Homo sapiens: one gene and its partners. The protein of the gene in region 1 purifies or fractionates together with the protein of each later gene. This does not show direct contact. Each region holds a gene or a part of one and is shown in the gene's direction. Other genes may lie near its edges. The genes, in order: SLC25A46, NCEH1, MTX2, MTARC2, MTCH1, MTFR1 and PLD6.

Region 1 (3,500 bases):
AGTAATCTTATTTTTTTATTTCTATTTTTTTTTACTTTAGAACAGCTGAATAGATTTGCTGGATTTGGTATTGGACTTGCAAGGTAATGTTTTATCTAAAGACGTTTACAGCTTTTATTTATTGAATTTAGAGTTTTTCTTTAATTTACAATATTAAATGATTATTATTGCTTCCTTTAGGTTGTTTCTTTGAAGCAGCAGCTTAAATTTTGAATAATATTTTGCAGAAAAAAAATGACCATTATTTAAAATATATAATTTGATAGTTTTTCCAGTAAGGATAGACTAGTCATCCAATTTTATAAACACAAAGTAATTTTGTAATGAGTATTGTAACTGTTTTCATGGGTCTATCCAAAAAATAAAATGAAGTGTAATCTTATCTCTCTCCCATCAAAATAATAATTTAGAATGGGGTTCATGAAGATCAAATGGCTCTGCTGATAAGAACTTTTTTCATAGGACATTTTCTGAAAGAAAAATTACATGGCATTTAATGATGCCATGTAACTGACGTGTCATTTCCCACATCAAACATACAGTGATCTAGTTTCATTTTATACCGTAGATATTAATATTGTGTATTATATATTGTTTCCCTTACTTACCTGTTTGCAGATCTGGTTTTCATTCTTTTCATGGGTCTATCCAAAGAATAAAATGAAATGTAATCTGTCTGTCTCCCATCAAAAAAGTAATTGTGCATGGAGGCTTCTTTCTAAACACTCTAATGCTTACAAGATATTTAGCAACATAGCATCTAGATTTTGTTCATAATCAGCGTTTGGTGATAGCATTACTTTTTTTTATATCTAACGATCATTTTAAGAAAATCCTTTAGTCTTGATTATTGTGATCCTTAGTGAATACCATTTTCAAAAATATTGGAATTGCACAAAGCTTACATTTCATGCCATAATGATCATTATTTTAAACATTTTAACGAAGAAAAACACCTTATTTGCATAATTAAACCCGAGGGTGTTAATGTCAATATAAATAAAATCTGTGTTTTCCATTCTGCTGGAGTTGTTTTTTGCTTCAATATTTATACTTAAAGCTTTGATTCATTTGATAGACTATTATTACATATAAATATGTGTGCACATGTATGTATATGTCACTCTGAGACCTGAAACCCACAGCTGTAATTGTTTTGTGGGGCACATTCTCAAAATAAATATTTGATACATAAATATTAGTCAATTAACATGGTCATTAAGAATCTTATAATTTAAGATTTATACTTAAATTTATACTTAAACCTTATAATTTAAGTGCACCAAAACCAAACATTTTTAGAATGGGGTTCATGAAGATCAAATGACTCTGCTGATAGGAATTCTGTTATTAGGACATTTTCTGAAAGAAATAATTTGCAGCATTAAATGCCATTTAATTGATGTGCCATTTCCCACATTAAACATTCAGAGATCTAGTTTCATCTTATACTATAGACATTAATATTATGTATTATGTATTGTTTCCCTTATTTACTAGTATGCAGATCTGGTTTTCATTCTTTTCATATTGAATTTCGTTATGGGTAGAATCATTTGCAAACATTTCTAGACATTTTTAAAGATCTATTTAATTTGTTTAAGAATGGAAAACATAAAATAATGCATGATTCTTCAGGCAAGAATAATTTCAGAAAGATACCTGTTGTAAATTTAATTTATCTCTATGTAGACATACATATACATAAATTATTTTTATATAGTCTCTTTACAGAAAATGTATTGGCACATCCTTGCATTGTTCTACGCCGCCAATGTCAGGTAAATGTAATTTCTGTGATCTTTTGAAGCAATACTTCTGACCCTAATATGAAGGGCAGAACTCACATAAATGACATGAAACCAGGTAATTGTTACTTCATGTGAAATGTTCCAAACTTTTTGGTCTCAAAACCTCTTTAAAGTCTTAAAAAAATATTGAGGATCCTAAATAACTTTGGTTTATGTTGGTCATATCTATTGATAGTTACCATTTCAGAAATTAAAATTGGGAAAATTTCAATGCATCTATATAATTCATTAAAATAATAACACCTGTTAGTAAGATAATATGTTTTTATGAAAGTAACTATTTTGCATTTTTGCAAATATCTTTAATATCTGACATAATAGGAGAGAGCCAGTTTCTCTCGTATGCTTCTGCAGTCAATCTGTTGCATCACGTGGTTTTTGAAAGAAGCAAGGAAGTTTAGTCTTGTACACATGTATAGTTGAAAGCAGGAGAGGAGTATATTATATTCTTTTGAGATAATTGTGGGTATTCTTTGCAATTGCACCAAAACTCACTGTGTCGCAGTTTCTTAAAGGTTATTTGCAATGTGAAATCAGAAATCATTTTAGTGAACTTTTTATACTTTGTTACATTAAAAAATCCATTTAACTATACTGCATCTTGAATAGATATTTTTACTTATGCCTGATTCCATGTAATTGTGCATAAGTTATTTGAAAAATATTGACCAATTGAGTTACATAGATCTTCCTGTTGTTAAAACATTTGATTATAAAATATCAAAAAATCATCTTCATTAAAAATACTACTGATCTCACTAGAAAAGTCTATAAGTATTGTCAGCTCTTGACGATGCATATAGATTTTCCAAAATTCTGAGTTTTAGTTGAAAATTCAAACTTATCATTGACAGTAAATACTGTTATTTATTTTTGTTTTAATCAACAATCTCACTTTGTTTATTTTTTAAAATATGTCTGTCCTGAAAGTGAATAGGTATAGTCCGTCAATGAGTTTTTCTAAGTAAAAATGATGTTCCGTGAAAAAAGTGGCTAGTTTAGCTTGCAGTTCTATCATACAAGTGCTTTCCTCATGACAGCAATCTTACTTCCTTATGTAACACACAGGATATTAATTAGAAAGAGGATGTGTACTCAAAGGTCAAGGATTCATAAAATTAACATTTTGTTACTTCATTGTCAAGGATATTACTATATGAAGGTTGCTTTTTTCTCTCTATGGGTAAATGAGGTGAAAAATTACTGTAAGTACGAAAATACAGTTTGATGGTGCTGCCTCAATTTGTGCTAATGAGCTGGGAGTTTTACCTACCATTGCTTTTGTACCATTAGTGAAAATGTCAAGACAGTGAAAAAAGGAAATTATATCTTAGTAATCACTAGGAAAATAATTTTGAACTTGTCAAGCCCCTGAAAGGGTAATGGGGCCCTCAGGAGTCAGTGGACCCCACTTGCAAACTCTGTTATAACCCACTTTTTTTTTTTGTTTGTTTGAGACGGAGTCTCGCTCTGTTGCCCAAACTGGAGTGCAGTGGCATGATCTCGGCTCACTGCAAACTCCGCCTCCTGGGTTCACGCCATTCTCCTGCCTCAGCCTCCCGAGTAGCTGGGACTACAGGAGCCCGCCACCGTGCCCAGCTAATTTTTTGTATTTTTAGTAGAGACGGGGTTTCATCGTGTTAGCCAGGATGGTCTCGATCTCCTGACCTCATGATCCGCCCGCCTCAG
Region 2 (3,500 bases), on another chromosome or scaffold:
TTAATTACCTAGCAGGATTTTATTTTGAGACAGGGTCTTGCTCTTTCGCCCAGGTCTTGTTCTTTCGATCTCAGCTCACTGCAACTTCCACTTCCTGGGTTCAAGTGATTCTCAGGCCTCAGCCTCCCAACTAGCTGGGATTACAGGTGCATACCACCATGCCCGGCTATTTTTTTTTTGAGATGGAGTCTTGCTCTGTCACCCAGGCTGGAGTGCAGTGGCACCATCTCGGCTCACTGCAACCTCCGCCTCCTGGGTTCAAGTGATTTTCCTGCCTCAGCCTCCTGAGTAGTTGGGATTACAGGCGCCCACGACCGTGCCTGGCTAATTTTTGTATTTTTAGTAGAAACGGGTTTTCACCATGTTGGTCAGGCTGGTCTCGAACTCCTGACCTCAGGTGATCTGACTGCCTCTGCCTCCCAAAGTGCTGGGATTACAGACCTAAGCCACCGCACCTGGCCCTTTTTTTGTATTTTTAGTAGAGATGGGGTTTCACCATGTTGGCCAGGCTGGTCTTGAATTCCTGATCTCAAGTGATCCACCTGCCTCAGCCTCCCAAAGTGCTGGGATTACAGGTGTGAGCCACCGCTCTCAGCCCAACTAGCTGGATTTTAGACTGTGGAAAATAAATGTCTTTATTTAGAGTAGCTTAGAAAAAATTAGTTTGTGAAAATAAGTATGCTAATTATAAGATGGAAATCAAAAGTCTTGAGTCTTCATTGGCTGTTATTAATTTTTAATTAGGTAATTAGTTTTTATCCTACCTAATTTTGGTCTGTTTTTGAGTTTTTGCAAATCAAGTAACTTTTGTATGCCTTAGTTTCTTCGTTTGCAAAATGAAGGTATGTTAATACTCAAAAAAGATTTATTGGATGGATGATTATGTGCCCCTCACATTGGCAGATACTGGAAGCACAGTTATGAATAAAACACAGTTCCTGATATCAGAGAACACAATCTTTAGGAAAAACATATGATAATTTTCATATGAGCCAATAAGAACAGTGAGTGACGTACCCTGGCACATAGAAATATCAAGGAATGGTAGCCAGTTCAAGCCCAAAAGCAAGTGGAGATATGACCAAGGAAGGCTGCCCAGAGGAGGCCAAACCCTCCAGTTAAGGCTTAAAGGATGAGTGAGAATTAATAAGCAAAAGAGGGGAGTAGAGAGTGAGAGGGAACTCTAAACCAAGATTGCCAATGTAGATGTGTAAGATAACACTATGGGTGAGGCATTTGACAAAACCAGAGCTTTCTGGGAATCTTAAGGGGATATGAATTCTACTAGGTGTACAGAGTAGGATTCCAAAGGACTCTGATCTTGCGAAGTGGGGCCAGTTGGAGAAGCCCCAGAAGTATCCCCGAGGGCCTGCTCTAGGCCGTCTGGAAAACTTAGCTTCCCTTTTGTGAGTTAACAACCGGCCTTTTAGTTACAGTCTTCCAGGTATTGAATGCATTTCTTGGGTTTAATGTCAGGCTAATATGGACCTCTCCAGTGAAGTACAGTTTTATTATATGAAGTAAATGATGGACTCATTAAATGTGAGATCAATGAAGTGGTTAATCCTGCCAAGTCACCTCGTAACCCAGAGGCATTATGAATGGAATGCTGACTTCCAGAAATAAAATTCTAAAATCTATTACGGTGCTATCCATGTCTTTGTAATGAACATTCGCCTTTTACTTGTTAGTTTTATTTTGGTTGTTCTTGGTGGTAAGTAGGTTTGGTTTGGTGGCTGATAGTTTAAAGAAAAATAGTACTATTACTAATACAAAATCATCACATTTTAAACTAAGTATTTGATTTGCAAGAAAATGGTTTATTTTTATATTTTATTATTTTTTCTTTTTCATACAATAATTCCATTGAATTAATTTCTTATCTATTTCCAGATTTAAAAGAACCAGTTTCCATCTAAACTTTAAATGTCCCCCAAAATTGGAGAAGGCCTTAAATGAATACAACTTTTGTTTTTACAGATACAGGCTAGTTCCAAAGGTTTATTTTCCTGAGCAAATTCATGATGTTGTACGGGCCACAAAGTATTTCCTGAAGCCAGAAGTCTTACAGAAGTATATGGTTGATCCAGGCAGAATTTGCATTTCTGGTGACAGTGCTGGTGGAAATCTGGCTGCTGCCCTTGGACAACAGGTAACACCACTGTCCTAAGGTGCTGGTGGGTTAAGCGGTGCATGACAAGGTCTAGCAGACCAACACACCCTCCATTATGTGTGGCAAATGCATAGCTGGGTGGGCCGGTCACTAGATGGCCAAATTGTTCATGTGATTACACTTGTAGAGCTCTCAGAGATCTCGTTGAAGTAGGAAGATGAGTCATTGGAGGAAGTATCACCTATGAGTCTTTGTAAAGTCCCTGATTACAGTCAGTGTTAGAGAAGGGCTGACATCCCTTGCTTCTCAGGGCTATGTATGGAACTCCAGTATCCCCTGCTCCTTTTTCATGTTTGACTTGCAAATCGGAGTATTTTTGCTTAAATTCCAGTTCCTAAGATTGTTCCTTACAACTTTGAGCCAAATTAAAACCTTAAAATTTGTTTCCCCAACTTTTTTTTAATGTAAAAGAAAGAAATTAAACGATTCAGCCATTTAAATATTATCTTACAAGTTACTATGAGCTTTACCTGGTTTAATTCTTTGAAAACTATATCTAGCTTCTAATAGCACCCCAATTTTTTTGGCAAGTGGGAAAAAGCACATTTTCTTCCTGTTATGGATGAAGTAACTTAAGACATCTTTGTCTTCTCACCTCCAAATTTCATTTGGTGTCCTCAAATACCATCTGTCATTCTAATTATGATGTACCTTGGCTTCTAACTCTTTTGCTATAATTCAAGAACTTGATTTTCCATTTGGCATTGGCAAGTTTTCCATCCAAATATGGTCAGAAGAGAGTCTTGGCTCAGTGGAGAGAACATTCTTGGCTTTGAAGCCAGACAGCACTGGGATCTAACCCAGGACCCACCGTTGAGTGCTGCGGGGCCCTGGATAAGTCCCTTAACCTCTCTGAGCCTCAGAAAAACGAGGACAGTGTCATCTGATTGCAGGGCTGTTGCAAGGACTTAGTGAGGTGATGTGTATACAATTTTTGGCACATATTCAAAGTGCTATTTACTGACCATTCTTGCTTTTGGAGAGCAGTCATATCTCACCTGGGAATGGGTTTCTAAAGTCCAAGTATGAAGCAGAAGTGTATGGCTAAAGTTACCTTGAAGATCATTTAGTTGTCTATGAAGCTTCATGACTAGTTAGCTTTCTTTTAGATGTTACACGACAAATATATAATTTTGCACACTAGAATTACAAAATGGGGCAATGTTAACACTGTGGGGAGGTGTTGGGGGACTGAGATCTGTTGAGGTAGGGGATTCATTCACATTCCCATGACAACTTCACTCTGGCATATGCTCATTATGTAGAATGGAGGGTGCATTGCCAGAACTATTTAAATTCTGTCTCACCAAGCGTGAAGATGCTCACC
Region 3 (4,257 bases), on another chromosome or scaffold:
AAAAAAAAAAAAAAAGAAAAGAAAAGAAAAGAAATCATGTTAAGATGAGGTCCTGCTGGATTAGGGTGGGGGTCCCTAACACAATGACTGGTGTTATTTCTCAAGAAGAGAGAAATTTGAACACATTGACACACAGGGGGAATGCCGTGTGATGTGGTGGCAGAGATTGGAGTGATGTATCTACAAGCCAAAGTACATGGAAGATTGCCGGCAACCCCCTTCTCTGGAGCCTTGCAAGACAGCATGGCCCTGCTGACACCTTGATTTCAGACTTCTAGCCTCCAGAATTGTGAGAATGAATTTCTGTTGTTTAGCCAACCAGTTTGTGGTAATCTGGCAGCTCTAGGAAACCAACCACGCTAGTTAAGGAGGCAGAATGAACAGTAATAGAGATCTACGGATATAAAGAATGGAAATATAGCTTTCTAAATGTCATGGACAGTAATTCTTAGAATACAGGTTTCCTCTGCAAAAACCTAGTAAGCTGTCTGACTTTTTGATTTACTGTGTGATTTAAAATGAGTTACCTCACCTCTCTGAACTTGTTTCTCATCAGTGAAGGGGGCTTTGGGTTACCAGCTCTGAAGCCTGTCCCACTTGTAATACCACCAATCTGTAATGCATATGATTTTTCTTTAATTGTGTAATTTAAGAAGCTATTAGGTTAAGACAAAGTTACTCAGGGAATTTAGTTTCTCCTCTTCCTGCCCCGTTCACCCCCGAAAGGTGAGAAGTGTGTGAAACTAAAGTATCTTATTCTCCAAGCTGAGCATCATTTCGGGTGTATGGAGTTGAAGGACAAATTACCTTCTGGCTTAGGCGCTGCTCAAGCCTCCTTTCTGCCAAGCATGTTTGAATAAACAACAACAACAAAAAACACTAATGTCTATCCACGGACTAATCAACCCAGCAATATAATGGAATAGAGGGAATTCATGCAGCCTTGAATCTGGTCCTTGGAGGACTGCCTGGGCAGGCAGTTTAAACTCCTTAAGCCTATATTCTTATCCGTAAAATGGCGATAATATTATTACTTTAATGGGTTGTTGAGAAGACGAAGTCAAATAGAATATATGTGTATATATATGTATATATGTGTATATATGTACATGTGTACATATATACGTGTATATATTATATATGTGTGTATGTGTGTGTGTATATATGTATATATGTGTGTGTAGATATAGGTATATAAGTGCCTGGTATCCAGTGGGCGTTTACAAATGTTACTCGGTTACAAAATTCTGGCTTACAGAAAGGACGCTAAAAATCTCCCAGATTCCCCTGCCAGTCCCCTGGGTGGGAGACGAGTCGGGTACTTCGCTTCCACCTGCGGGCCCCCAGCGCAGAGCCTGGAATTGGCTGGACGGAGCTAGCCGCGCCGGCGCCCCGTAGGACGGCGCGGGGGCGGGGCCGGCGGAAGCGCTCGAGTGCCGTTGTCGGCTGCGCCGGAAGTCCCTAGCCAGGCCTGGCGGTAACCTTGGGGGCCTCACTGCAGCCGCCGCTGCTGTTGGAGTGGGCTTTGCGAGTCTGAACGTTGGCGGGGCTAGGCTCGTTAACTGCCGAGAGCCTCCGGGTTTGCGGTGGAGGACGCTGAGGCCCGTGGGGGGCAGGCACCCGGGCGCCGGGCCTCCCAGCCGACATGTCTCTAGTGGCGGAAGCCTTCGTCTCCCAGATTGCAGGTAGCGCGGCTGGCCGCAGACCCAGAAGGTGGCGGCGCGGTCTCGGGGAGCCGCGTGGGGTACAGGGCTGGAGCTTTCCTCCAGCCTTGCGGCATTATACGCTGAACCCGGCCCGGATGGTGGAGGCGGGCACGGACTACCAACCTTATCTCACATATGGGAAAACTGAGAAGGAGACACTTGGCCAAGGTCACCCCGCAGGAGCAGGAGTCCCGTCTCCTTCCCTTGGGCGGTACTTTGTCCCACCTCCCCATTCAGTTGGGAGGTGCTGGAGTATGAGGGGGAGGCCTTGGATTGGGATTGAGGTGGGGGGCGTTACCACAGGGGCAAGCATCTGAACGCTTCAGTCTAAGAGTGGTGGCAGTTTCTGGGTCTTGGTACTCAAAAAGTTTAAGGTGACTGTCACTAATCAGTTGTTACCTATTGTTGAGGGAACACCAGACTTCTTGCTTCGTCTCCCAGCGACACAGTAGTGCCATTTGCTAAGACTCTAGGAGTTATTTATTTATTTATTTGTTGAGACGGAGTTTCTCTTTTGTCACCGAGGCTGGAGTGCAGTGGCACAACCTGGGCTCACTGCAACCTCCGCTTCCCGGGTTCAAGCGATTCTCCTGCCTTAGCCTCCCGAGTAGTTGGGATTACAGGCGCCCGCCACCACGCCCGCGCGGATTCATGGAAAATTTTTAAATCTGCATGTACTTTAAAGAAATACTTTTGAGTCGGTGGACTGAACATGACTGATGTATATAGGTTTGTAATTTCTCTTATTGAGGTTTTTATTTATTGTAATGAAAGAAATTAAATATTGTTGAGAAAGTGAGGAGACTAAACATAGGTACTTTGAGATAGAGGCTAATGGAATTAGTCATAACTCCCTAGCAGTGTTTTCAACATGAGTACAGTAATGAAGACAGTCACCACAATAAATAGGTACATTTGAAGTAATAAGATAGTATTTTGGAAATGGGAAGTACAGAATGTGTCATAAAATTTGCCGGAATGTTTTTCACTGCTTTGCGTTTGTGTGAACGTACATTTCTTTTTTTTCCTTCTTCACTTAAAAACATTATTTTTTAGAGGAGAGAAGCTCCTACTAGATTGCAAGCTTCCTGAAAGTAGGGATCAAACTTGTTTTGTTCCCCATTGTATCCATAGTCAGTTGGTGCTCAATAAATATTTGCGACCCAAATCAATGACTAATCTTGAGATTTCAAGCAATGATTATTTCTGCTTTTACCATTTATGTTGAAACAAAATCAGGCTTATATAGTTAGATCAGCGATTTAATTTAGTTTGCTACTATGTTGAAAAAAAAAACTTCACAGTGTATGTTGAGTGGTTCACTGTGTGCATGTGTCCTAATATGTGATTTCTTTTAATGAGAAAATGATGAATGTCTTTTAATAAACTTTGGATACTGCTTTAAGTAGTGACGTTTAAAAATTTCTAGGCATTTTGTCTGTCTGCCGTCTTAGCTATTTGTAGTGATCTGTTACTCTAGGAGGAAGCATTTAAAAATGGATAATTCAATAAATGGTGTTGGAACAACTACTAAGTCATTACACCACATGAATAAATTCCAGATTGATTAAAGATCTAAATATAAAACAACAAAATTGTAATAAAATAATTAGAGGAAAACATAGATTATTTTAATAATCCTTGGATAGCAGAAGAGGCCTAAGCAAAACTTAAGAATTCATAATCCATAAGAGAAGAAATTGGCAGATTTGATTGCCGAAAAAATTTTAAAACTTTGATAAAAGACATCTCAAGTTAGTACAAATAAGAAGACAAACCAACAGAATCAAGGACAAAGGATTGGAACAGGCATTTCACAAAAGGGTGAAATATAGATGGACAGTGAACAGATGAAAAGATGTTCTCTGTCCCTAATAATGTATAGCATCCTCCCACCCCTGCCATCAGATGGACAAAAGTGAATATGATTTCTAGTACTAATAGGGCATGGGGAAAAGTTACTCTCAAACTATTGGGTCTGTAAGTTAGTATTACTTTTTGGGAACGTAATGTAGCAATATTTATTAAAATGACATTCTCTGGCCTGAAAATTCTACTTATGGGGGTTTATCTGATAGAAATGTAAAGACCAGTACTTAAAGAAATACACAATGATATTAATTGCAGCATTATTTGTAATAGCGAAAAACTAGAAATGTTTTAAATATATGTCAAATTATTGTACACCAATCCACCAATTCCACTTCTGGGCATGTATCCAAAGGAATTGAAATTGTCTAAGAGGTATGTGCAGTCCCATGTTCATTGCAGCAGTATTCACAATAGCCAAGATATGGAAGCAACCCAGGTGTTTATCAGTGGATGAATGGATAAAGAAAATGTATATAAGATACAATGGAATACTATTCAGCCTTAAAAAAGAAGGAAACCCTATCATTTGTGATAAAATGGATGGATCTGGAGGACATTATGCTAAATGAAATAAGCTAGACATAGAAAGACAAGTAGTGATCTAAAATCTAATCTTTTTGGGGAAATCTAAGAAAGTTGATCTCCTAGAAACAGAATAGAAAGGTGGTTACCAGAGGCT
Region 4 (3,500 bases), on another chromosome or scaffold:
GGAAAATGATTGTTAGGTCCCAAGACGGGGTGGGTGGAGAGTTCTGAGGAAGTAGAAAGCTGGAGGGAAGCTGTTGGGAGGTGGAAGAGGATTTTCTGAGTGTGCCCTGGTTTGTTTCTCTGCAGGTTTTGGCTGGTGATTAAGGAAGATGGACACATGGTCACTGCCCGACAGGAGCCTCGCCTCGTGCTCATCTCCATCATTTATGAGAATAACTGCCTGATCTTCAGGGCTCCAGACATGGACCAGCTGGTTTTGCCTAGCAAGCAGCCTTCCTCAAACAAACTCCACAACTGCAGGTGTTCCGCTTGGGGGCATCCACAGAACTGCAACAGGCTTGGTTTCTCTTCAGGCTCCTCCTTGCATTCTGTCTTGCTATAGTTTCTACAGTAGAGGATGACATTGGTAAAGGAAACATTTAAGAGAAGTGCAGTTTGAGTTGGGATTGGGCATGAGTGGATGATGCAGGGTATTGTTTTCAGGGTACCTAGGATTTGTTTTAATCAGGTATGGTTAGACACGCAGACATAGAAATGACTGTCCTGAAAAAAGAAGATGTTATACCAACAGATTCTCTAGAAACTGGAGGCACGCTACGCCACGCAAGGCCAAGTGGGGGAGTACCAGGGTGGGTCAGGAGGCAGAGGGAGCAGGGGGAACATGTGGGCAAGGGCTTTTATTGTGGTTTCCACAGGAAAGGAGAAGCAAGGCAGGGGCGGCAGGCTTAGGGCTGGCTAGTTTGAACAATTTCAGCAGGCTCTGGGTCACAGGTTGTCTGGTACTTGGCTCTAGGGTTGACTAGGGCATGGGACTAGTGGCCCGGCATGTAAGCACCAAATAAAGGAGGTGACTGGGAGTGCAGACTCTGGATGGGTTGGTGTTCCTATTACAGGCACACTTGCAGGTCATCAGTCTATTATTTCTAGGAATTGGTCAGCCCTGGAAGAAGCAGTTTCTTCAGTGTCAACAAGGCTCCAAGATGTCAAAGCGTAAAACATGCAGAAAATTAAAAGCAGGATTACTACAAGTATAAAGGTGGTACAATGTGCTCATCTTTAGGGCTTTTCTCCTTTCATTCAAATCTTCATTCAGAATTGTCAACTCTCCAACCAGGCAGACAAGGGAGTTAGTGGAGACTTTAGCAGCTGTATCTCAGGGCTGGGTGAGAAGGATGCTGGAGCTTCCAGAGCTTTTCAAGTTGACTCTGCGGCCTCTGAAGTGTGTGGTTGAGATGAAGACATATTCCTTGGGTGTAAGGGATTTCCACTTCTGGCCAAAGACACACCTCAGGCCTTGGCTTCCTTTTGGCCTATGGGACTTCTGTTGGGTTGTCAAGTTCCGTGGTTTGCTGGGGTCTTGTCCTTCCACATTAAGAAGACTTAGATGCTTGTCATGGGATGAACTGGATCCCTTGTCACCAACTGAGCTTGTTAAGTGTGTGGAAGTTGGTGTTGTCCCAGGGCTCAGAGGGGAGCCTCAGATTACTCCGTGAACTCTCATCTTACGCTTTTTCAAGCAAAGCGTCTAAGCTGAAATCCACAACTCATGGTTCCCAATTTTCAAAAGTCTGAAGCAATAATTCACTGAATTCAGTATTTCAGGTAATTATCTTAGCAAGCCCATGAGGGGGTCATTAATTCCACTTTACAAACGAGGAAACCACGTCTTAGATCACTGCCACGAAAACACAGAGCTGGGATTTGAACCCACTTCCCTCCTAAGGCTTTTGCCTTTAACGTGTTTGTGTAGGGAGAAGAAAAGCTTTTCCATAAATGACAGGTTTTGAGCCCATCAGTTCATTGAAGAGGAAGTGTGTAGCCATCTCGGCTTAATTGGAAGACATGTGAAGGTGATGGGTAAATACGTAGCTGACATGTGTCACATGAGTAATATAGGTGTTGCCCTGTAGACTCACTGTGTTGCCAACAGTGAGCAAGTTTTTCCCCCAAGGCTCTTTACCAGCTAAATAGGCAGAAATCTAGGGGGACACTCACCTTCCTGGATGGAAAGAGGGAAAGAGGAAGACCTTGCAGGTGAGTTGCCTGGGTCTGAAAAAGACAGCAATTGCAGCCTATTCTTTTTTATTTATTTATTTTTTGAGACGGAGTTTTGCTCTTGTTGCCCAGCCTGGAGTGCAATGGCACGATCTTGGCTCACTGCAACCTCCACCTCCCAGGTTCAAGCGATTCTCCTGCCCCAGCCTCCTGAGTAGCTGGGATTAGAGGCATGTGCCATGACGCCCAGCTAATTTTGTATTTTTAGTAGAAATGGGGTTTCACCATGTTGGCCAGGCTGGTTTCGAACTCCTGACCTCAGGTGATCCACCTGCCTTGGCCTCCCAGACTTCTGGGATTGCAGGCATGAGCCACCGTGCTCAGCCTGAAGCCTCTTCTTATGTAATTCTGTTCCATGCATGAATTGTAGATCTGGATGAGGTGGGAATAGAGAGCCTGGAACCCTGGCAGTTTGGTGAAAATGATTGAGAGCTGTGCATTTGGATTGATGCAGAGGTGTAGTCAGCGCACTGCCCTCTCTAGCTGGTTAGACATGCTGTAACTAGTTCAGCCTGTATTTATAAGCTATTTTTAATGGATTCGTTGCCAAGGGAACTGCTAAAAACTGAAGAAATAACATAGATAGTGTGTTTAGCTAGTGCCAGCTGCTGTGACAAAATACCATAGTCTGGGTGGCTTAAACAACTGACATTTATTTCTCATAGTTTGGGAGGATGGGAAGTCTAAGATCGAGGTGCTGGTAGATTGGTGAGGTCCCTTTTCAGGGCTGTAGATGGCCACTTCTCGTTATGTCCTCACATGACCTTCCCTGGTGCCTGCATGAAGAGAGAAAGCAATCTTGTGTTTCTTCCTCTTATAAGGGTGCCAATCCCAGCATGAGGGCTCCACCTCATCTAACCCTAATTACCTCCCATAGGCCCCACATTGGGGGTGAGGGTGTCAACAAAGGAATTCTGGGGAGACACAAACATTTAGCCCCTAACAGATGGTAAGCGACAGAGTGATTACCACAGCCAGCCCACCAGAGCCCAGAATCAAATAACATAAACCAACAACCTCAAGTTAGTAAAAAGAAAAGTCCCTTCACAGACATTTGGACAAGGCTGAAGTGTTATGAATTTTATATTATTCTACACTTATTTTATTTTATTATTATTATTATTTTTGAGATGGAGTCTCGCTCTGTCACCCGGGCTGGAGTGCAGTGGCGCGATCTCAACTCGCTGTAACCTCTGCCTCCTGGGTTCAAGTGATTCTCCTGCCTCAGCCTCCTGAGTAGCTGGGACTACAGGCGCACGCCACCACGCCCAGCTAATTTTTGTATTTTTAGCAGAGACGGGATTTCACCATGTTGGCTACCATGGTCTCGATCTCCTGACCTTGTGATCCACCCGCCTCGGCTTCCCAAAGTGCAGGGATTACAGGCATGAGCCACCACGCCCGGCCACTTATTTTTTTTAAACTTTCACTGTTAGTGTTTTGAAT
Region 5 (3,500 bases), on another chromosome or scaffold:
CTCCTGCAGGGCCCTGTATTCTTTCTCTGCCCTCTGGGAAAGTACTTCTCTTTGCTTACTACCCCCTCCTACTCTTACTCTTGGGCGGGCCTGTGGGCTCCTCTGCTAGAGGGTTGTTTAACCAGAGATAAGTGTGAGGGCCGGGTAAGAGAAGGGCCTGCCGCCTCTGCAGCAGTGGCCCAAGTTAGGAGATGCATTCCTAAACTCCTATCTCCCAGAAAACACCAGTAGAGGACTGCTAGTGGGCTGCTCCCATGGGTGGTTGGGCTTCCCCAGTCTCCATGAACTGTGTAAACTCCTCCTCACCCTGAACAAGCGCTCTTTGCCTTTCTACTTGGTTCTTCATGGTAATAGTCCTCCCCATCCCTGCCAGGACTGGCTGGATTTGAGCAGAACTGGTGGGCTCAGCCCCACACCAACGGGTGGGCTTCTGGTAGGTGACTGCATGACCCTGTATCTCTGTCTTGCCTTCTTCACAGTGGTGTGCTGAGCTCCATTGGGAAGATTTTCAAAGAGGAAGGGCTGCTGGGATTCTTCGTGTACGTGAGTTTATACACCCCATAACTGGCCACGGGCATGGCTCTGCTAACAGGTGTGTCCTCAACCTCTCAGACCGCAGCTGCTGGCCTGGGACTTCACTACATGGCCCTGCCCTAGCCTGAGTGCTGCAGCCAGCTCTCCAGAGCTCCATAGCGTGTCCAAGCTGCTTAGCCCTTTTCAGGCCATGGCTCATGTAAAAGTGGAACTGTGTGTCTAGTACATGGGGGAGATGAACTGACCAGCCCCACTGGGCCTCATCCAGTTGTGGTGGGTGTGGGGCTGGTCTTCATGAGCTAAGTCACTGCATAGTCCTTGGCCTCACTGCTAAAACATGACTGAAAATCTGACTTGGACTGAGGGTGGAGCTCTGGAAGCTCACAGGCTGACCACAGCCAGTGGATTCTGTTTGACATTGCTTTTCTGACAAATTAGTTGTTGCCGTTAACATTTAAGATATGTTGCACAAAAATCCACATGTCTGGCATCTCTTGAAAAGCCAGAAAATCTTGTCCTGCTGAGCGGTTCTTTCTGTAGAGCATCCATCGGCCAGGACCCAGGACCTGCTTCTTTGGCAGGGCACATGGTCTCCGAGGGCCGCAGACACCCTGTACTTCGTCACGTCACATCCAGTGTACTTCACCTCTAAAGAAAGCACATACTGAAAAGACTAAGTTCAGAAAGAATAAGGTGCAGACAGAAGCCAGGCTTGATGAGTTGTATTTTGATTTGCCGTTTTAAGGTCTAGGCAGTGACATACATGCTGATAAGTATGTCACAAACGTGGTAGACACATGGTATACAACAGTATCCGCTGTACTAGATACAGGGCTCCATATTATTCATAAGAAGTCTTTATATCATGGTTTTCCGGTTTGTGAGATGTTTTTTATTTATGGCCCCTTGTTTAACCAATTAGTGACTACTTGTAGGTGCATGTGTGTGTATATGATATAGAAATATATATACGGTTCTCAGCAGGAGGTGATTTTGCTCCCCGGGGAACATCGGCAGTGTCCGGAGACATCTTGTGGTTGTCACAACTGGCATCTAGTGGGTAGAGGCCAGAGACGCTGCTAAACATCCTACAGTACACAGGACAGCCCCGCAACAAAGACTTATTCAGTCAGGTGTCGTTGCTTGCATCTGTGATCCCAGTTAGTTGGGATTAGTCTCAGTGGTTTCTGCAGCTGTCAGGAGACCAAGGCGGGAGGATTACTTGAGGCCAGGAGTTCAAGACCAGCCTGAGCAACATAGTGAGACTTCTGTCTCTACAAAAATGTTTTTAAAAATTAGTTGGCCGTGGCGGCATGCACCTGTAGTCCTAGCTACCCGGGAGGCTGAGGTGGGAGGATGGCTTGAGCCCAGGAGTTGGAGACTGCAGTGAGCTATGATTGCACCACTGCACTCCAGCCTGGGTGATAGAGTGAGACCCTGTCTCTTGGGGAAAAAAAAAATTATTCAGCCCAAAATGTCAATAGTGCCAAGGTTGAGAAACTCTGATTTATATTCACACACACACATATATGTATGTGTAAGTATTTATACATACATATATTTGCACATGTACCTGGTAACAAACCAACATTTGTGACATACCTATCAGCATGTATGTCACCGCCTAGACCTTAAAACAGCAAGTCAAAAAACAACTCATCAAGCCTGGCTTCTGGGTTCTGTCTGTGCTTTATTCTTTCTGAACATAGTCTTTTCAGTATGTGCTTTCTTTAGAGGTGAAGTAAGTTGGATGTGAGGTGACAAAGTGCAGGGCATCTGTGGCCCTCAGGGACCATGTGCCCTGCCAAAGGGGCAGCCCCGGGACCCCAGCCAATGGCTGCTCTACAGAAACAGCCACCCATCTTGAAACACTGCACATGACCACCTCTGGCATTTTTCACACTGCGTAGTTCTCTTCTGGTGTTTGAATAGGATTCCCGCACAACAGATGCCTACTCTTTGGGTTCTTTCTCCCCATGTGATTTTGGAACAGGTGATACTCATACATGTTACAGTGCATAGAAAGCACCAAAGGGTATAGCACAAAGTCAATCTGAGCACAGGCAGGGACGACAAGATTAGAAATTGCATTCACAGAGGTTCCTTTTATTAATACTCTTCATAGATGTATTACATATATTCTTTTGAGTTTTTCAAATATAAGATTTTTTTTTTTAATTCAAAAACAAAAATTCTGCTTCTCCTCCCAGGAGACAGCCATCCTTCTCCTGGCGAGCCTCCCAGGGCACTCTGTACCTAAACAAGCAAACACATTGTAAAAAACACAAGAGGCACATGGGACTCACTGACCTCAAACTGGCCTTTTGCCCTCAGCACTGCATCTTGGGGAACCTTCCTTAGCAGTTTATAGAGCTGTTTATCCTAAAGGCCATCACTTAAAAAGTTAGCCCTCCTTGTAAATGCTTGCATAGAATCTTTTTGATAGAATATTTTCAGGGGCAAAGAGAACAGATGCATTGAGCAGTGTGTCTTCTGAGAGTTGGTTAGGTAAAGAGGCCAGGAGAAAATTACCAACACGTCGGCACTCTTATTATCTGCATTTGGAAATTCCAAATTTGGCAGTATTCACATCTTGATCCCTGGCTTCTGTGGTTTGAAAACTGCTTGAGACTATTAGCTAATTTATGGCATCCAAAGCGGCATAGAACACCTCCCCATGGGAAAAGGAGCACTATCTTCCCAGTGTGCATAGCTGCTGGACCCTGCAGGCCTCCTTTCTAAGGCTGTGCCATTGGATATGCTAAGATTTTGAGCTCGGAACATCCCTGCCTGCTTCCTGGGTGTGGAGCCCCCAGGAACTGCTCCTCTCCCTCTCCTGCTCATCTCTGCTTACCTTGTTTTTTAGTGGATTAATCCCTCACCTCCTGGGCGATGTGGTTTTCTTGTGGGGCTGTAACCTGCTGGCCCACTTCATCAATGCCTACCTGGTGGATGACAGCGTGAGT
Region 6 (3,500 bases), on another chromosome or scaffold:
GTTCTGTGGGTTGTCTCTTCAGTTTATTGATTATTTCATTTGCTATGCAGAAGCTTTTTGACTTGATGTGATCTCATTTGTCCTTTTTTTGCTTTGATTGCCTAATACCCCATGTGGGGTGCTATTCAAGAAATCATTGCCCAGACCAATGTCCTGGAGAGTTTCCCCCAGTGTTTTCTTGCAGTAGTTTCATAGTTTGAGGTCTTAGATTTAAGTCTTTAATCCATTTTGATTTGATTTTTGTATATGGCAAGAGATGGGTTGTAGTTTCATTCTTCGGTATGTGGATATCCAGTTTTCCCAGCACCATTTATTGAAGAGACTGTCTTTTCCCAATGTATGTTCTTGGCACCTTTGTTAAAAATGAGTTTACTGTAGACCTATGGATTGATTTCTGGGTTCTCTACTCTGTTCCATTGGTCTATGTGTCTGTTTTTATGCTACGACCATGTTGTCTCGGTTACTATAGCCCTGTAGTATAATTTGAAGTCCAGTTTTTTTCTTTTTGCTCAGGATAGCTTTGGCTATCCTGGGTCTTTTGTGGTTCCATATAAATTTTAGGATTATGTTTTCTATTTCTGTGAAGAATGTCATTGATATTTTGATAGACATTTTGATAGATATTTCATTGAATCTGTAGATTGCTTTGGGTGGTATGGACCTTTTAACAATATTGACTTTTCCAGTTCATGAACATGGAATATTTTTTCCTTGTGTGTGCCCCCTTTAATTTTTTTTTTTTTCAGACAAGGTTTTGCTCTATCATCCAGGCCGGAGTGCAGCGGCATGATCACAGCTCATGGGCTCAGGAGGCCCTCCTGCCTCAGCCTCCCATGTAGTTGGGACTACAGGCACATGCCACCATGCCTGGCTAATTTTTTTTTGAGACGAAGTCCCACTCTGTCGCCCGGGCTGGAGTCTGGGGTGCAGTGGTGCTATCTCAGCTCACTCCAACCTCTGCCTCCCAGGTTCAAGCAACTCTCGTACCTCAACCTCCCAAGTAGCTGGGATTACAGGTGTGCATTACCACACCCGGCAAATTTTGTATTTTTTAGTACAAAAATATAGGCTGGTCTCAAACTCCTGGCCTCAAGTGATCCTCCTGCCTCTGCCTCCACCTCCCAAAGTGCTGGGATTACAGCTGTGAGCCATCATATCTAGCCCTTAATTTTTTGTTTTTTTGTAGAGGTGGGTCTCCCTATGTTATCCAGGCTGGTCTCAAACTCCTGAGCTCAAGTGATCCTCCTGCTTTGGCCTCCCAAGGTGCTGGGATTACAGGCATGAGCCACCACCCTGACCCTCTTAAATTGCTTTTGAGTTTTCATTGTAGATATCTTTCACTTTGATTTCACTTTGGTTAATTCCTAGGTATTTAATTTTATTTGTGGCTATTGTAAATGGGATTAATTTATTGATTTGTTTTTCAGATTGTTCACTGTTGGCATATAGAAATGCTACTGAGTTTTGGATGTTGACTTTGCATCATGTAACTTTACTGAATTTATCAGTTCTAATAGTTTTTTGGTAGAGTCTTTAGGTTTTTCCAAATACAAGATTACATCATCTGTAAACAAGGATAATTTGACTTCTTCCTTTCCTATTTGGATGTCCTTTATTTCTTTCTCTTGCCTGATTGCTCTAGCTAGGACTTTTTACTATGCCATTTTATATAAGGCACTTGAGCATCTGTAGATTTTGGTGTCCATGGGATTCCTGGAACCAATCCCCTGTGGATACTGAAGGACAAGTGTATAATGTGTACAGGCAGGAGGGTAAACTGCTTTCCTAAAGAGATGATTTTAGGTGGAACAAGAATCAACTTTGTATTTATTTTAGTCAAGATATCCTTTTCTGTCTGTTTTGGCTCAGATAGGGAGTACAATGTATAGTTAAGTACTTTAAAGTATATCCTGGAACAAACTTTGATTGCATCAGTATTATTGCTTGGCATGAGGCTAAGTTTATTTAATTTTTAAAAAATGAGTTTATTTAAGATCGAGCACAGTGGCACACGCCTGTAATCCCAGCACTTTGGGAGGCCGAGGTGGGTGGATCACCTCGATCACCAGGCAGTTCGAGACCAGCCTGACCAGTGTGGTGAAACTCCGTCTCTACAAAAAATACAAAAATTAGCTGGGCGTGGTGGTCTGCACCTGTAATCCCAGCTTCTCGGGAGGCTGAGGCCCAAGAATCGCTTGACCCCGGGAGGTGGAGGTTGCAGTTAGCTGTTATCGTGCCACTGCACTCCAGCCTGGGCAACAGAGCAAGGCTCTGTCTCAAAAAATAAAAATAAGAAAGAAAGAAAAAAACAGTTAATTTAAATTAAAACATTAAGAGCATCCAGATATGACAAAACTCATAAACCAAGTATGAAGGTTTGAAGTTGAGAAATACTAGTATAGCCTGTAAGGGTTCCCAAAGTTTATATATTGCTAATGTTTATTATTTACTTAGATGGTCCAAATTAGAATAATTTTTATGTTTTTACTTTTTAGATTTCAGTTATTTAATTTAGAAAATGTTACTAGTCTTTAAAAATTACAAAAGTAGGCTGGGTATGGTGGCTCATGCCTGTAATCCCAGCAATTTGGGAGGCTAAGGTGGGAGAATCACTTGAAGCCAGGAGTTTGAGACCAGCCTGGGCAACATAGTGAGACCCCATCTCTACAAAAAAGTATAAAGTTAGCTGGATGTGATGATATGCCTATAGTCCTAGCTACTTGGGAGGCTGAAGCAGGAGGATCACTTGAGCCCGGGAGCTTAGGGCTGCAGTGAGCTCTGATGGTGCCATTGCACTCCAGCCTGGGTGACAGAGTGAGACTTTGTCTCTCAAAAAAAAAAAAAAAAAAGGAAAATCACAAAAGTAGTACATGTATCCTATTGGGGGGAAAGAAAACATACAAACAATACAGGAGTGCATAAGTGTATAATAAAAGTGGAGGGTCTCACCACCAAGCCCTCAGATATAGTAAGTGTTAAGTTTTGGTAAGTTTTCAGATCTTTCCTCTATTTCACCACTGTTTCTGTTACTTTATTGTTTTTTAGTTATTTTTAATGGAATTAATATGTATTTGTAACTTTTTTCATTCAGCATTTTATTATGAAAATTGTTTCATGTATGGCTCTATCTTTTTTGTTTTAATGGCTGTAAACTTAGAATGGGCATATTTAATTTATTGAATTAATTTTAACCATTTCCCTATTGATGGTCATTTAGATTACCTTTGGATTTTCTCTTTCACAGTAATGTTTCAGTGAATACCCTTGCCAGCTTTCAAAAACTAAACATCTTTCTCCTTGGAGAAAGGTATAATTTACTGAGTTCTTCCATTAAAGCAATTTTTTTGTGTGTTGTGTTGTGTTTGAGACAGTTTCACTCTGTTACCCAGAGTGGAGTACAGTGGCGCACTGATAGCTCATTGTAACCTCAAATTCCTGGGCTCAAGCGATCCTTCTGCCTCAGCCTCCTGAGTAGCTAGGACTACAGGTGCATACCACTG
Region 7 (2,839 bases), on another chromosome or scaffold:
GGCCTGCCCAGTCCCCCATAGCCTGTGTGTGACGCTCTGGCCCTGTGTGTGATGTCCCCTCTGTGGTTCTCAGCGTCCCTCCTGGGAGCTTAGCCGCCACCACTCTGTGAAAGCATGGCGGGCTTTCCTGGCCCACCAAACTGGAAACATATAGTAAAGCCAGTAGCCCCCAGGAACAGTCCACACTGGGGGCGGGACTCCTGCATGGAATGAAATCACCTTGTCCTTTCTGCAGGGATCCAGGTCCGGCACGATCAAGACCCAGGCTACATGCATCACAAGTTTGCCATCGTGGACAAGAGGGTGCTCATCACTGGCTCGCTCAACTGGACCACGCAAGCCATCCAGAACAACAGGGAGAATGTTCTCATCACGGAGGACGACGAGTACGTGCGGCTTTTTCTGGAAGAATTTGAGCGCATCTGGGAACAGTTTAACCCTACAAAGTATACCTTTTTCCCACCAAAGAAAAGTCACGGAAGCTGTGCCCCACCTGTCTCCAGAGCTGGAGGGAGATTGCTTTCATGGCACAGAACTTGCGGCACCTCCAGCGAAAGCCAAACCTAACCAAGAATGGGGCTGAGCCCTCCCTGCGGGCTGCTGTGCGTTCTGAGGGAGGGAGACCTCGGCACTAGAAAAAAATCGTTAAACTAAAGTCTCGTCTATTAGAATACTAAATTGAACTAAAGAAGGTTAGGAAAGGGAAATTTCTGTTACTTCGGGTCAGTTATTTCGGGCCAGACCTTTTTCTTGCTCCTTTGCCAAAATAACTTCAGTCACGACCTGCCACGGGGTGCTTTCATGAGTGTGGTCCGTATCTTGGTTTGGAATCGAAACTTCTGCTACAGCACAGAAAAGGCACAGTGCCTCTTCCAGGTCGATCCCATTCCCTTCCCTGATTCTAGAAAAGTCCCTCCTGCTTTGGCTGATGTGGGCCCTTTCAGCATCTCCCTGAGATTTCATCCCTCTCTCCATGTGGCACGACTGGGGTTGGTTGGGGCCTACAGTCTCCTTGTCCCTCACAGTCTGCCCCTGTCAGGGCTCGGTCCTCAGAGTAAGGAAAGGAAATGGAAGTCAGGAGGAAGGGAAGATGTGAGTGTGCGGTGCGGGTGGCAAAAGCAGCCTTCGGGGCAACCCCGTGAGCGTCATTGCCACCAAAGGCTGGCTGTTCCCTTGATTCCTTGCATAATTGCTCTTTAAAACCAGTATGCACGCCAGTGCCAAGCTCTTCAGCAGCCTGTCCTTGGGTAGTAAGTGCTGTGGTCTGTCAGGACTGATGGCCAGCAGCTGTTTCTATGTTGGGCTTTTAACTTTTTTTATTTTATTTATTTATTTATTTATCTTTTTTGAGATGGAGTCTCACTCTGTGGCCCAGGCTGGAGTGCAGTGGCACAACCTCGGCTCACTGCATCCTCTGCCTCCTGGGTTCAAACGATTGTCCTGCCTCAGCCTCCCGAGTAGCTGGGATTACAGGTGCCTGCCACAACACCTGGCTGATTTTTTTTTTGGTATTTTTAGTAGAGACAGGGTTTCACCATGTTGGTTAGGCTGGTCTCAAACTCCTGACCTCAAGTGATCCACCACTTCCGCCTCCCAAAGTGCTGGGATTACAGGTGTGAGCCGCCATGCCCGGCCGGGCTTTTAACTTTTAATGTCCTAATGTTAAGGTAATTTTGTTGTGTGTTTAGAAGTGACCTTACCTTTAACACCTGTGGAGTTAGTGCGTGCACATTGCTGGCTCAGCGTAACCCATCACGGGACCGGAGGAGAGGAGAGCGGGGAAGAGGAGAGCAGCTTCAGGCCGTGGTGTCTCCCACGTCTGTGTTCTTATTTGCAGCTCAGGGTTTGCATTCCCAGGTAGAACAGGTGTCGTACACTGTGAAATGTTCCAGGTTATTTGTTTATAATGTGTGTGTCATATACAGATAGCTCCGATGACATCTGAAGTTGTGACTTCATCATCTTGTCATATTTCTGTATGATGAGCCCCAGGGCCCATCCTGAGGTCTGCTAGCCATGTGCTTAGTCTCACCTCCCCAGCCCACGCTGGCATTACCACCCAGAGACCCTTCAGTGCTGTGTGTTTTTCCTTTTTAGGGTTACTTTTGACTCACAGTGTTAGGCAAGCCAGCTTGGAAGTTAACTTTTAAAAAAATTCAATTGAAGCTGTAAAGTATAATATATAGATTGGAAGTCACCAGAAATTGTTTTAGTTTGTGAATTCCCCCAGTGTATGTTCTGAAAAGAAAATGGGAGAGCTTGTAAAGCATCTCCTAAATGCGAAGCCGCGTGACCCTGGACTTCTGGCACATCTGAATAAACATGTTCTTATTCTGGAATGTGAGCGCTGGGTGTCTTTGCCTTAGCTTGCTGCTAAATCATTCAAGTAGGGGCTCCTCTTTGTTAAATATAATTTTGCGGGGGGGGGCAGTATACAGCTATTTAGAAACTGTTGGTCAAAGAACAGGAGACTCAAAGAGGAGTAAAACTTTAAGCTGTTATTTGGGTGAAGGAAATAAGGTATACGGTGGTCCATTTTTAAGACAAAGTGCCTTGAATCGGCTTCGGTCAGCAAACTACGGAAGAAACGGGTTGTACTAGGCCCCTCAGGCTAGCCGATGCCTTATCGGCTTCCCCGCCTGCCCCCTTCCCCCTTCCTTGGTTGCCCTCACCCGAACCAAAAAAGTTTAAAATGAAAGTTTACTGGCCTGCAAAATAGCTCGCTTTGTCTCTTCCTACCAGCTGGCCTAGCTACTTAGGTCATAAGTCAAATACTTGAAGAGCCCCTAAGCAGACTAAGATTGCAATGCACTGTGGGCTGTAACAAAATGCAGCAAGA

The links.
Region 2: the proteins of SLC25A46 (region 1) and NCEH1 purify together in Homo sapiens (affinity purification with mass spectrometry; one large-scale study listed by BioGRID and IntAct). This does not show direct contact.
Region 3: the proteins of SLC25A46 (region 1) and MTX2 purify together in Homo sapiens (affinity purification with mass spectrometry, with the first as the bait; one large-scale study listed by BioGRID). This does not show direct contact.
Region 4: the proteins of SLC25A46 (region 1) and MTARC2 purify together in Homo sapiens (affinity purification with mass spectrometry, with the first as the bait; one large-scale study listed by BioGRID). This does not show direct contact.
Region 5: the proteins of SLC25A46 (region 1) and MTCH1 purify together in Homo sapiens (affinity purification with mass spectrometry, with the first as the bait; one large-scale study listed by BioGRID). This does not show direct contact.
Region 6: the proteins of SLC25A46 (region 1) and MTFR1 purify together in Homo sapiens (affinity purification with mass spectrometry, with the first as the bait; one large-scale study listed by BioGRID). This does not show direct contact.
Region 7: the proteins of SLC25A46 (region 1) and PLD6 purify together in Homo sapiens (affinity purification with mass spectrometry, with the first as the bait; one large-scale study listed by BioGRID). This does not show direct contact.

The regions. Positions count from the first base shown.
Region 1 is NC_000005.10:110,742,007-110,745,506, forward strand, and holds part of SLC25A46 (mitochondrial outer membrane protein SLC25A46), read left to right. Parts: intron 1-40; coding exon 41-83; intron 84-1,723; coding exon 1,724-1,781; intron 1,782-3,500. UniProt on the Homo sapiens protein: Transmembrane protein of the mitochondrial outer membrane that controls mitochondrial organization.
Region 2 is NC_000003.12:172,634,568-172,638,067, reverse strand, and holds part of NCEH1 (neutral cholesterol ester hydrolase 1), read left to right. Parts: intron 1-1,980; coding exon 1,981-2,152; intron 2,153-3,500.
Region 3 is NC_000002.12:176,267,985-176,272,241, forward strand, and holds the start of MTX2 (metaxin-2), read left to right. Parts: upstream 1-1,457; 5' UTR 1,458-1,645; coding exon 1,646-1,685; intron 1,686-2,229; exon of another isoform or gene 2,230-2,425; coding exon of another isoform or gene 2,426-2,435; intron 2,436-4,257. UniProt on the Homo sapiens protein: Involved in transport of proteins into the mitochondrion.
Region 4 is NC_000001.11:220,754,822-220,758,321, forward strand, and holds part of MTARC2 (mitochondrial amidoxime reducing component 2 isoform a precursor), read left to right. Parts: intron 1-125; coding exon 126-299; intron 300-309; exon of another isoform or gene 310-405; intron 406-3,500. UniProt on the Homo sapiens protein: Catalyzes the reduction of N-oxygenated molecules, acting as a counterpart of cytochrome P450 and flavin-containing monooxygenases in metabolic cycles.
Region 5 is NC_000006.12:36,972,697-36,976,196, reverse strand, and holds part of MTCH1 (mitochondrial carrier homolog 1), read left to right. Parts: intron 1-479; coding exon 480-539; intron 540-3,400; coding exon 3,401-3,500.
Region 6 is NC_000008.11:65,651,234-65,654,733, forward strand, and holds part of MTFR1 (mitochondrial fission regulator 1 isoform 1 precursor), read left to right. Parts: intron 1-3,500. UniProt on the Homo sapiens protein: May play a role in mitochondrial aerobic respiration. May also regulate mitochondrial organization and fission.
Region 7 is NC_000017.11:17,200,495-17,203,333, reverse strand, and holds the end of PLD6 (mitochondrial cardiolipin hydrolase), read left to right. Parts: intron 1-235; coding exon 236-567; coding exon of another isoform or gene 568-583; 3' UTR 584-2,339; downstream 2,340-2,839. UniProt on the Homo sapiens protein: Presents phospholipase and nuclease activities, depending on the different physiological conditions. Interaction with Mitoguardin (MIGA1 or MIGA2) affects the dimer conformation, facilitating the lipase activity over the nuclease activity.